Homo sapiens: one gene and its partners. The protein of the gene in region 1 purifies or fractionates together with the protein of each later gene. This does not show direct contact. Each region holds a gene or a part of one and is shown on either strand. Other genes may lie near its edges. The genes, in order: CNN3, CORO2B and NEK10.

Region 1 (3,653 bases):
ATGTGGGCTTTTGATTCCAGGCATTATTCTAAACACTTTACATGGATTATCTATCTGATTTCTCCCAACAACCCTATAAAGATGAGTGTTATGATATCCTCATTTTACATACAAGACAGGCAGGTTAAGTCACTTGCCAAAGTTCACAGTAAGATGCAGAACCAGGAATCCAACCCAGTTCCCACAGTCCATGTTCTTAACCACTAAGCTCTACTTTCCCTGACAAGAACCTTGTATGACAGGTATGGAGAAGTCTTCAAGTTCAAAAGGGTTCACATGGCCATAGGTTTTTGTAAAACTTAAAAGATATTTATATATTTTTCATAATGAGGACCCCCAAATTGTATAAACTTCGTCCCCACAAACAACCTGGATCTACCTATGAGTTCCAAGAATCCTTAACAAAAATCTGAGGGTACAAGTACACATAAATAAGTTAAGAGCCCATTTGGGCTATAAAATAAGTTCAGAGTTAAGGAGAGCCAATGCACATGGTATATGCTACAGGAGGGTAATGCCTAGATTTAAATGGAACTTGCCAACAAATTCTAAGGACAAGCTTTCTCCAACCACCACCTAGTTTCACTGAGAAAGAAAATGCAGGGCTGGGCACAGTTGCTCACACCTGTAATCCCAGCTCTTTGGGAGGCCAAGGCAGGTGTTATCACTTGAGGTCAGGCGTTTGAGACCAGCCTGGCCAACATGGTGAAACTCCAACTCTACTAAGAATACAAAAATTAGTCAGATGTGGTGGCAGGTGCCTGTAATTCCAGCTACTCGGGAGGCTAAGCCAGGAGAATTGCTTGAACCTGGGAGGTGGAGGTTGCAGTGAGCCGAGATCGTACGACCTCACTCCAGCCTGGGCAACAGAGGGAGACTCCATCTCAAAAAAATAAAAAAGAGAGAGAAGAAAATGCATTTCCTCACTCTCCTGAATACAATGCTAATGATGGGTGAAAAACCAAAACGATCCAATTGTGCTTACTTTTTTTATGCCGCAGATCAGATTCATTATGACTTTAAGGATACACTGTTAAAGAGGGAAAGGAGGCAGGAAACACTAACCCTCATGTCCCAACCTGGAAGGGAAACAGGCACTGGGGAAAAAAAAAGCCTATACCTCTGTTGATGGTGGGTATTAGCGATGTCATCATTGTCAAGATTGTTTCTGAAATCTAAAGGACTGTCTAGAGACAGAACAATTTCCACAAATGTTAGACTGTAAAAAATCAGTGAGCCTGACGATAATCCTCGTTAAAACTCCAGAGTAAATAAGGATGAGAATTTTAAAGAGGAAGCATGGTATCTCTTGTCACTTCAGCAAAGTGTATCTTATTTATCTGTTTTGGTCAAGACAGGAAAACAAAAACTAAAGCAGACCAACAGCAATAGCTGGTTCCTACCAGGAGCAAAGTCCCTGGCTGAATGGCCCCTTCTCCAGCAGTATTCAGGAAAATGCAGGCACTGGACAAATCCTTGCAGAGGACACCTCTACCATTCCTAACTTGGAAGTCTAAGAAAGAGCCCAGTCAAAATATCTATCTTAAGAAATAATCCCAAAATCAGCAGCAAAGATGAAAAATTTCAACATAATATTAACTATTTAACTACTTAAGAAAAACAAGGCTAGGAATGGTGGCTCACACCTGTAATCCCAGTGCTTTAACAGGCCAAGGCAGTAGGATCACTTGAGGCCAGAAGTTCAAGACCAACCTGGGCAACATAGCGAGATCAAAAAATAAAATATTTTTTAGAATATTTTCTTTTTAACCACATCCTTCAAAATCATCACACTTGCACTACAGAATTATCTTATTTAGACTACAGAGTTAATTTCTAACTTCTTATGTCTAGAGATAGCAAAATCTATTCCCGATGAATAAATTCATTAAATCAACAAATATTCAAATATTTATTGAGCATATGCTATGTGCTAAACTATATTGTAAAATATCGATCTTGAGACACACCCGCGAATAAGAGAGCTTTATCTCTGGTGGGAAGAGACAGATAATAAGCAAACAAAAAAAGATTTTAATTAAAAACCAATTTCTGAACTTCCAAGTTTAAAAAGAAAAAAGCTAAGCCCACCAACACATTTTTACCAAGATTCTGGTGCTCTACCAGCAAGACAAGGCAAACCACCCTCGAGTGTAATTTATAGCTGGGTCACCCTGGGTTACTCTGATCAGAAGTACCCTCAGAGCAGCTGTGCGTCTAAAGCGCACCCGGCAAACAAGCTAGGAGGACTTCGCGGACACTGGTCCTATCTAATTATTACTGTATGATTGTTTAACTTCAACAACCAAAGATTTTGGTAATAAGCCTTTCAAGAAGGTTTTTAGGTGTTGAGAAATACCATTTTGTAATCAAGAAGATCCCGTGGGAAGCTGCTTTGCTCAAATCAGACATTCCAAGGGGGCAGAAGACTGGAAGAATGTGCATTCCAATTCCATGCTTCTTAATATTCCAGTTAGCTTCCTCCCAAAAAAACATACCGAGGTAAGATTATTTCAGCTCCCCATTTGTCAATTTATTTTTTCCACTTTCCCTGAGACCTGTAAGAAAGGTTCCTGCGGCATTTGCTCTAAACCTGATGAAGACATGCTTCACTGCGTCCTCTCTTCCCATCCAACTTTACGGGAAACTACCCCCAACTCCAACATTTTGCCAGGAAATACTGTGCTTCCCTTGAGTACCTGTTATGTTTTTTCATGGTTTACGAGGCACAGAGTTGTTTCACTTTTCATTTTGGTTCCCAAGATGCATTCAAGGGCCTGGTTCAACCTGTAGAATACCTGTAGGGCCCATTATTTTATGAGTGTTTCCATCCTCCACCGAACCATCCCTACCAGTGTCTGCATTTTCCCTGGCCCTTTTACTCTCTGATAGTTTTTGTAAACTCTAAGTTATTGATCATTTGGTGTCATTTTTTTCTTTGTTATTAAAGAAACTTTGTTCATATTCCAGGCTGAAAGACTGGAATTCTTAGGCTTTTTTTTTTTAAGGCTGTTTTCACACATCTTCTTGCCTATTAAAAAAAGTAAGCTTGTGTGTTCTGCCATGTATTATCATCTTACCAATCAAATGTCTTAAAGATTTTTCTCTGAAATTTTACTGATTAAAGTATTTAAAATCAGAGACTTCCTCAATTCATTGATGAAATGCTTTTACAGCTAGAATATTATATAACAAGACCAAAAGGTATTAATACAAACCAAATACTTAAAGAGGCAGGGACATACAAATCTTAGAAATATAATACTAAAAACTAATTTTCTGTTACTAAGAGCTAATAGCTACAATACAGTCACTGAGTTGAGTATAAGCCAGACACATCTCCACAACATGGTGTCTGGGGGTGGCAACTATTGTTTTCCCCCATTCTACAGAACAGAAGCTAGGAGAGAGATGTCAAGTAGCTAGCCCAGCATCACAGAAGGCAGGAAGTGGCAGAACGGGGACTAGAACTCACATATGCTAGACTCCCAGGTCCACTCCACACTGTCTCCCCAGGATGTTTCTATACTTCTTTGTTAAATGAGATGTGGGGGTAGATGGGGGGAATCTAGCATTCAAGCAATGTATCAATTATGCAATAAAGAAAAAGCAGGAAGGAATCAAAAGGTGTCAAACCACGCAATGTCACTTTT
Region 2 (3,653 bases), on another chromosome or scaffold:
CTGAAGACAGCTCTCCCCTGTGCCTCATGGGCAGTTAAAAAAACCAAGGAAACCTGGCTTCTAGGCTCCTAGTGGGTGCACCACAGGGGACTCACTGCGGGTGGAGAGGTGGAGGTGGATGGGCTGATGTGAGTGTGTGTGTGTAGACAGCCTTTCTGACAAACAAGGCTGTATTCACCAAGGATCTCCTGGCGGGTATCTCAAATTCCATCATTCATCACTGACTACACTGCAGGCTCTGATCTTTATTCCAATGTAAAAGCCCGCTCCAGCTCACCTTTGAAGGAATTCTTGGTAGCAGACACTTGAGTAAGAATGGGTGTCAGACTTGAGGGCAGGTGTGGATGGGAAAGGTGAGGCCCAGGAACTTGGAAGGTTAGGCTGGCTACTCTCCAGGGGGTGGGGCAGGTGCAGGGGTGCATTGAGGGTAGGGCTCTCCCACAGGCTGCCCCGGGCCCTCCCCCACCTCCTACTACCTTTCCAGCCAGGTAGAGCATGTGGGTGTCAGCATCATAGAAGGGGAACAGGAGGCCAGAGAGCCCATCAATTTCCTCTTCGATCAGGGGCATGGAGAGGTCCTCCTGAGGGAGAAGAGCTGGTCTCAGCCTCTCTGCAGGCAGGATGGCATACCCCTCCCCAAATCCCAGGAAGGCCTCTTAGGATGGCAACTACTTTATGTTAAGACCTCCCCTAGATGTTAAAAAGCCCGTCCTATGGGTGGTGGCAAGACTGACTTTCTTGTCACGAAAAGCAGCCAGGGGCAGTGGAAAGGGTCTTACAAACAGGAGGCAAGGGACTTGTTCTCATTGTCCCCAAACCTGCTACTTGCTATGTGTCCCCAGGTAAGTCTCTCAATCTCTCTGGAGCTCAGCCCCCACTCTGGAAAAAGAGGGTGAACATCTTGCAGGTGTGGCCGACATTGTTCCTTGAAGCCTCTGTACCCAAGCTCGGCCTCTGGGGGTCTCTGTCTGATTTCTCCACTGGGAATGCTATGAGAAGCTGGTGTGCGGGCCCAGGCTCCTGACTTTCTGAGGAAGTGACCTCCGAGGCAACGATGCTTCCTTTAGCCCAAACCCAGCAGGCCTCCCCGTGGCTGACCTGGTCCCAGAGGGCAATCTGTCTTGTGTTCCACCTGGAGACCCCTGTCGTGAGGAGCCGCTTCATGTTCCCCAGGAACACCACCCGGTTCACTCTGTGGTTTTTGCAGTTGGCCTCCTAGTAGGAACAGAGGGAGGTGGTGAGCCAGGGTCCCCAACATGTGGGTTCTGCAGTGGCATGAATGGTGGTCCCGAAAAGATACACCCATGTCCTCAGCCCTGGCCCCTGCAATTATTTCCTTATTTGGAAAAGGGTCCTTGCAGATGTGGTTAAGCTAAGGATTTGGAGATGAGATTACCCTGGATTATCCAGGTGGATCCTGGATGCCATCATGAGTGTCCTTGTGGGAGAGAGGTAAGATTACAGAGACACACAGGGGAGAAGGTGTGTGACCCTGGAGGCAGAGACTGGAGTGATGTGGCCACCAGCCACGGGAGCCGGCAACCCCCAGAAGAGGCAAGGAATGGGTTTTCTCCTAGAGCATCTGTAGGGAGTACAGTCCTGCTGACACCTTGATGTGGGACATCTGGCCTCTGGAATGGTGAGAGAATACATTTCTGTTGTTTTCAGCCACCTAGTTTGTGGGCATTTGTTACAGCAGCCATAGGACACTGTTCTAAGCACTGTGCAGCAATGGCTCCACAGATGCCTTCTCTGCCATTTCCCAGAGAATGTGGGGAACAGGGAGCGAGAGGGGAGCCAACGTCCACCAAGTCCAGTTGGGGGCTACACCACTTCAGGAGCTCTCACCAGGGGCATTGCTTTTCATCCCCATAACAATATCTATCGGAAGAAATCATTATCCCCATTTTGAGGGTGAGGAAACTGAGGCTCAGGAGGACAAGAGACTCATGCCCATCACTGCTTCACAGCTTGCCTCATCAGGGAGTGCCTCCTTAACTGAGCTGTCTTGGGCCTCCTTTCCTGCCCACTGGCTCGTGACACTTGATTTCCTCCTAACACACAACAGTCCTCGGCATCAGGTAAGTTGGCAGCAAGTCAGAAAAGAGGCCAATGGGGCAGTGCACATATTCAGGCTGGCGTCACACACTCTGAACTCTAGTTCTAGCTCCACCAAAAAAGTGTAGCCCAAGAGAAGACCTTCACCTTCCCTGGGCTCATGGCCCCATTTGGGAATTGGAGGTGGGGGTTCTCTGTTCATAAACATTCTTTCTGCTTGGCATGGGCTCTGGGTTTGAATCCTAGCTCCTCCTGGAACTGTGAGATTCGAGTCTCCCAACTTCGCTAAGGTTAAGTGTTCTCACGTATCACATGAGAGGAGTAACAGCACCCAGCTGAGAGGGTTGTCCTGAGGATTAAATGAGATGATGTGCAGAGCCCCGGGCACAGTGCAGGCCACACAGTGAGCTCTTAGCAGATGTCAGTTAACACTAATCATGCTAAGCAACTCTCATTATTCTTATTTGTAGTGGTACAGGTTGAGTAGCCCTTATCTGAAGTGCTTGGGCCCAGAAGTGTTTCAGATTTTGGATTGTTTCCGATGTCAGAATATTCACATTATACCTACTAGTTGAGCTTCCCACATCCCCAAATCCAAAATCTGAAATGTTCCAATGAGCATTTCCTTTGGGTGTTATGTCAGTGCTCAAAAAGTTTTGGATTTGGAGTCTTTTGGATTTTGGATTTTTGGATTTGGGATGCTCAACCTATAGTACTAGAAAACTTTCTGGTCTTGTAATATTGGACTATTCCAAGGTAAACACACCCAGATCAAGCATTAATCCCTTCTTGTGTAGAAGGCAAACCTCAGATATCATCCATATTTTCCATTCCATCTCTCCCCATGACCAGCACACAGCAGGTGCTCAAAAAATGGTAATTTCTTACTTCCAAATGGCACTTAACCCCTTCCTCAAACCCAAGACCCAGGAGATTCAAAGACCAAAAGTGGAGCTAAGTTCACCATCAGCCTTGGCACCCTAGCCATTTCCCTCAGGCTCATCCTATCAAGTGGCTGGGCAGTGAGTCCAGTGTCTCCTCCTCCTGTGCCTGTGGTGGACCTGGGTAACACCTGGGGATGTATGCACTGAAGGGTGTCACCAGTTCAGCCCCCAGAGCAAGCCAGAAGAATCCTGTCTGGAGGTAGGGGGTGCAGTGGGGACAGGAAAGGGTATGAGGTCCCTCCCCACCCAGAACAAGGCAGGGTTCCTATGAGCTGAGAAGGGCCCAGGAGAGAGAAAGGTTGTTCAACAGAGGTGCAGTGAGATGCACTGGAGAAGGGGGCTGGCACAGCCTTTTTCTTCCAGGCCTGCTGAAAGCTGAGCCCCAGCCCTCAATACCTTCCCCTTCAATCTCAAAAAATGTAGGGTTCCACCTGCAGAACACGGCCAGAGCGGGGCTCAATCACACGCAGCTTCTTGTCCTTGCACGTGGTGGTGAGCAGGCTGCCGTCCGTGTTGAAGGACATGCAGAGGATCACATCCGTGTGGCAGTCAATCATCTTCACCGGCTCACCCACATCCAGGTTCCAGATGAGGACCTGCGAGGGCAGATGCATGGGAGGCAGGGTCAGTGGCTGCTAGGGTCCTGGGGTG
Region 3 (3,653 bases), on another chromosome or scaffold:
TTGGCTTGGCTTCTAAAAAAATAATGTATCCACTCTAAGTATTGGTTTTCTCATGTATAAAACAAGGAAATTATAGACTAATTTCACAGAGTTGTTACAGAGATTAGATGCAATAAGGCAAATAAAGCTCTTTGCAGTTATAATATGAATGCCTGCACACAGTAAAGATCAGTACATTATATATTTACTAGATAATAGAAAAGTGGCTGTAAGGTATTATTATTTGTTCATTCCTTCATGTGTATATTTCAATTAAAAAATCTAGAAAGATGTCAAGATTATAATAAAGACATAAATTAATAACTGGAATATAATTTCTCCCTTTATGGTTGTGGTAATTAAGGATATAAATAAATATCAAAGATATAAATCTAAGATATTGGGACACCTTTACTCTGTCCCTTTTTAATCTCTCATTGTTTTTAAGGTATTTGAATCACTTTACGTTTATGTACTTTATTATAATCTTGATTCTCCACAGACAGTTGAAATTTTAAAATTGTAGTTGTACTCTTTGGTGTTTAAAAGTGTTATGTTGACATTTTAAATATTGTCCTGTAATGTTTACTTCAAGGTCCATAGTTATACTAATATTTCTTCTTTGATATTAATGTTTGAGATTGTTTATTTGCCTCTTTTTGCTTGTGTATCACTACAGTGTTGTCACTCATAGTATGACCCCTTTATTCTTTCAGGAAAATGGTGTATATACAATAGCAAAATTAATTTTACCAAATAAGCAAAAGAATGCAGCAAAAAGTAATCTATTACAGGTAATAAACATGTCTCTTGTCCTTCAGTATCAAGTTATTGAAATCTTGGGTAACTATGGTAAAATGATCTATGATTTTTAGAATGTTTAGGTTAGTACTGGTCCCTGTACTGACTATGAGGGAAAAATATCTGGCAAGGAAGACTGGCATGGAATCAAATAATATTAAAACAATACAGAAGGCTTAACAGTGGTTTCTCTGTGTGGGAGAATTAGGTGATTTATTTAGGTGTTTCTTTGCTTATCAATAAGTTCTATTTTTTTAAAAAAATATGCATTCCTTATGTATCAGAATATAACAACAGGGGGAAAATTATTTGCCATCATGGATCTTGATGGATGAGAAGGGACTTGCCAAGTGGATAAGGGGATATTGGGTGGGGCACCAATGGCATCTGCTGCAGGGTGGAAGGGCATTCCATGCAGAGGGAACAGCATGCACCAAGTGTGAAAGCTGTGAGCTTAGAGTGTGCTGAGGGAAGTGTGAGCTGCTCAGTGGGGTTGGGGTGTGTGGTTGTGGGGGCCAGTGCTCCAGCAGATGAGGCCTCACATGTAAGAAAGGGGAACAGTTAGCCAGGTTCTACATTCATTTTTGAGGAGTGGGTGTTGGGAGAGCTGAGTAAAGGGTGAGCTGCTCAGTGGAACTGGGGTGTGTGGTTTGGGGAGGCAGTGCTCCAGGAGTTGAGGGCTCACATGTAAGAAAGGGGAACAGTTACGCAGGGTTCTATGTTCGTTTTTGAGGAGTGGGTATTGGCAGAGTGGGGGCGGGGGGCAGTGGCCCTAATGTCAAAATCTGATTTAAAGTTAGTCTTTGCAATAGTTGTAGCTCATCTTTTTTTTTCCCCCAAGTCATTTTGAAAAGGAAGAAAGAAACAACCTTTGTCTCCAATCTGATTTAAGAGTTATCATCCAAAATGATGGCCAAACCCAGCAGACTCTTTCGGGGTGTCTCTGTGCTGGCAGGCAGGGGTTTTTGGAGCGCTACCAACGGGAAGGTGCAGGCATGGGACTTGATTTCTTCAGTGCATCACAGATATATGACACTGTGCTGTTAAACAGATAAAGACAAACCCATCCTGCAGAGACATTTCGTTAAGCCAGTAGAGGGTTTTTTAGAATTCCAGATGGAGGGCTTTTGAGGAATATGCATGCTCTCCCTTTCTCACAGTCTCCACTGCTCTCACCTGGCTCCTTCATGTCATTTTGTTACCGGCCTCACCTCTCTGGGCAATTTTGTATGGGACCCTTCTGTGTTCAGATCACTGATTTTAGGAAATGATCCCAGATTTGATTCACCAAACCCTGATCACTCCAATGGTGGCCTATTGTGCAGGCACAGCTGCAGGCTGGGCACACTCTTTTTTCTCAGTACTGCAAAATGTCAGATGTTTATTTTTCCTAGGTAAAGGCTCACAGGCCTCTTTCTGAGCGTTCTAGGGAGTTAGTGTAGATTGTTCTATTTGGGGAATGCTTAAGACTCTTTACTCAAGAGACCAATTTGTCAAGTTTGAATCCAGTGTGCCTGCGGCTATTTTTATATGTCATCATTTCTAGTGTTTATTTTCTCACAGAAACCATATAAATATTGAGGTATACATAGCAGGCTAGAAACAAAATAAACCTTGAGCTCCTGGAAATCTTTAGACATTTGGTTTTCTCAGCATCGGAATTTTATTTCTTGTCTCTGTACTCATTTTGTACTTTCTAGAAAGAAATTAATGACGAGTACCAAGTGAAGCAAGGCCAATATTCCCTGCATTCTACAACATAAACACTTTTTAAATACAGGAATGACCCCAGGTGTTGGTGTTTTTTGTTTTCAGTTAGAAGCTTTGGCTCCAACTTGGACCAGCCACTTACAATAAAGTCACGTTAATGTTTACTTCCTGTTAATTCTTTCCTGAAAATGTTTTAATTTGTTGAGCTACCATTTGAGAATCACATATCCTTTTGTTTTCTAGTGTTATGCTTTCAGAGCCTTGAGATTTCTCTTCAGTATGGAAAGAAACAGACCACTCTTTAAAAGGTATGAGGTTAGAGAAATATAAGTGATCATTAGGTTTAGGAGATCATTAGATTGAACTGTTTTCACATACTTGGCTTAGATGCAACAGAAGGAAAATAATGCGTCAGTATGCAAACCATGTGTCTTCAGATTTCTTATTTCACAGATAGAAGTGAGCTACTGTAGTGATTCAGTATCCAGCCACACTGAATATTAACAGAATGATGATGAAAGAGCATAAATTGCTATATCAATACAACTCCCCTTAATTACATGTGACTGCTGTGATTTTAGCTTTCTTTTTGATAATTAAAGATATTAACATTTTTAAAAGATGGCATTAAAATATGAGCTTCTTTTTTTCCAGCTAGAAATTTGAAAGTCAATCGGGTAATTTCACTTTAATCAAAGGGAATTTAATCAAAGGGAAAACAAACTGTTTTTTTGTGTGTCTTTGATGGTGTAGGAGCTCATTTGAAGGGGAGGCTGGATGTTCTGGGGTCAAGATACTGTGTTGGTGAGCCTGACCAAAAGGTCACCATTTCGGGAAGCAAACACTGGTTCCCTCAGTGGTGTTCTGCACACCATTTAGTTAGGTGGGTTAGCCAAAATCATAGGCCCAAGTTTTTATTAAAATTTTGTTAATAAGGCAGAATAGACATAAAGTATTGAGTTAATATAGTATTTTTTGTTCAGAAAGCATGGAGCGTCACTTTTCGGCCTTTTGGCTGAGATCAAGTGCAGAAAGCATGGAGCATTTTATGTTGTTACTTTATTTCTATACTGTTTGGATTTAGAGGAAAATGAAGTAAAATTAGTTCTCTTTTTTTTTTTTTTTTTTGACAAAGGCTCATCCTGTTGCTTCTCCTGCCTCAG

What was found.
Region 2: the proteins of CNN3 (region 1) and CORO2B purify together in Homo sapiens (co-immunoprecipitation; one large-scale study listed by IntAct). This does not show direct contact.
Region 3: the proteins of CNN3 (region 1) and NEK10 purify together in Homo sapiens (co-immunoprecipitation; one large-scale study listed by IntAct). This does not show direct contact.

What each region holds. Positions count from the first base shown.
Region 1 is NC_000001.11:94,920,509-94,924,161, forward strand, and holds part of CNN3 (calponin-3), read right to left. Parts: exon of another isoform or gene 2,360-3,653; intron 1,714-2,359; exon of another isoform or gene 1-1,713. UniProt on the Homo sapiens protein: Thin filament-associated protein that is implicated in the regulation and modulation of smooth muscle contraction. It is capable of binding to actin, calmodulin and tropomyosin. The interaction of calponin with actin inhibits the actomyosin Mg-ATPase activity.
Region 2 is NC_000015.10:68,711,487-68,715,139, reverse strand, and holds part of CORO2B (coronin-2B), read right to left. Parts: intron 3,599-3,653; coding exon 3,434-3,598; intron 1,216-3,433; coding exon 1,099-1,215; intron 582-1,098; coding exon 477-581; intron 1-476. UniProt on the Homo sapiens protein: May play a role in the reorganization of neuronal actin structure.
Region 3 is NC_000003.12:27,292,733-27,296,385, reverse strand, and holds part of NEK10 (serine/threonine-protein kinase Nek10), read left to right. Parts: intron 1-695; coding exon 696-773; intron 774-2,733; coding exon 2,734-2,798; intron 2,799-3,653. UniProt on the Homo sapiens protein: Plays a role in the cellular response to UV irradiation. Mediates G2/M cell cycle arrest, MEK autoactivation and ERK1/2-signaling pathway activation in response to UV irradiation.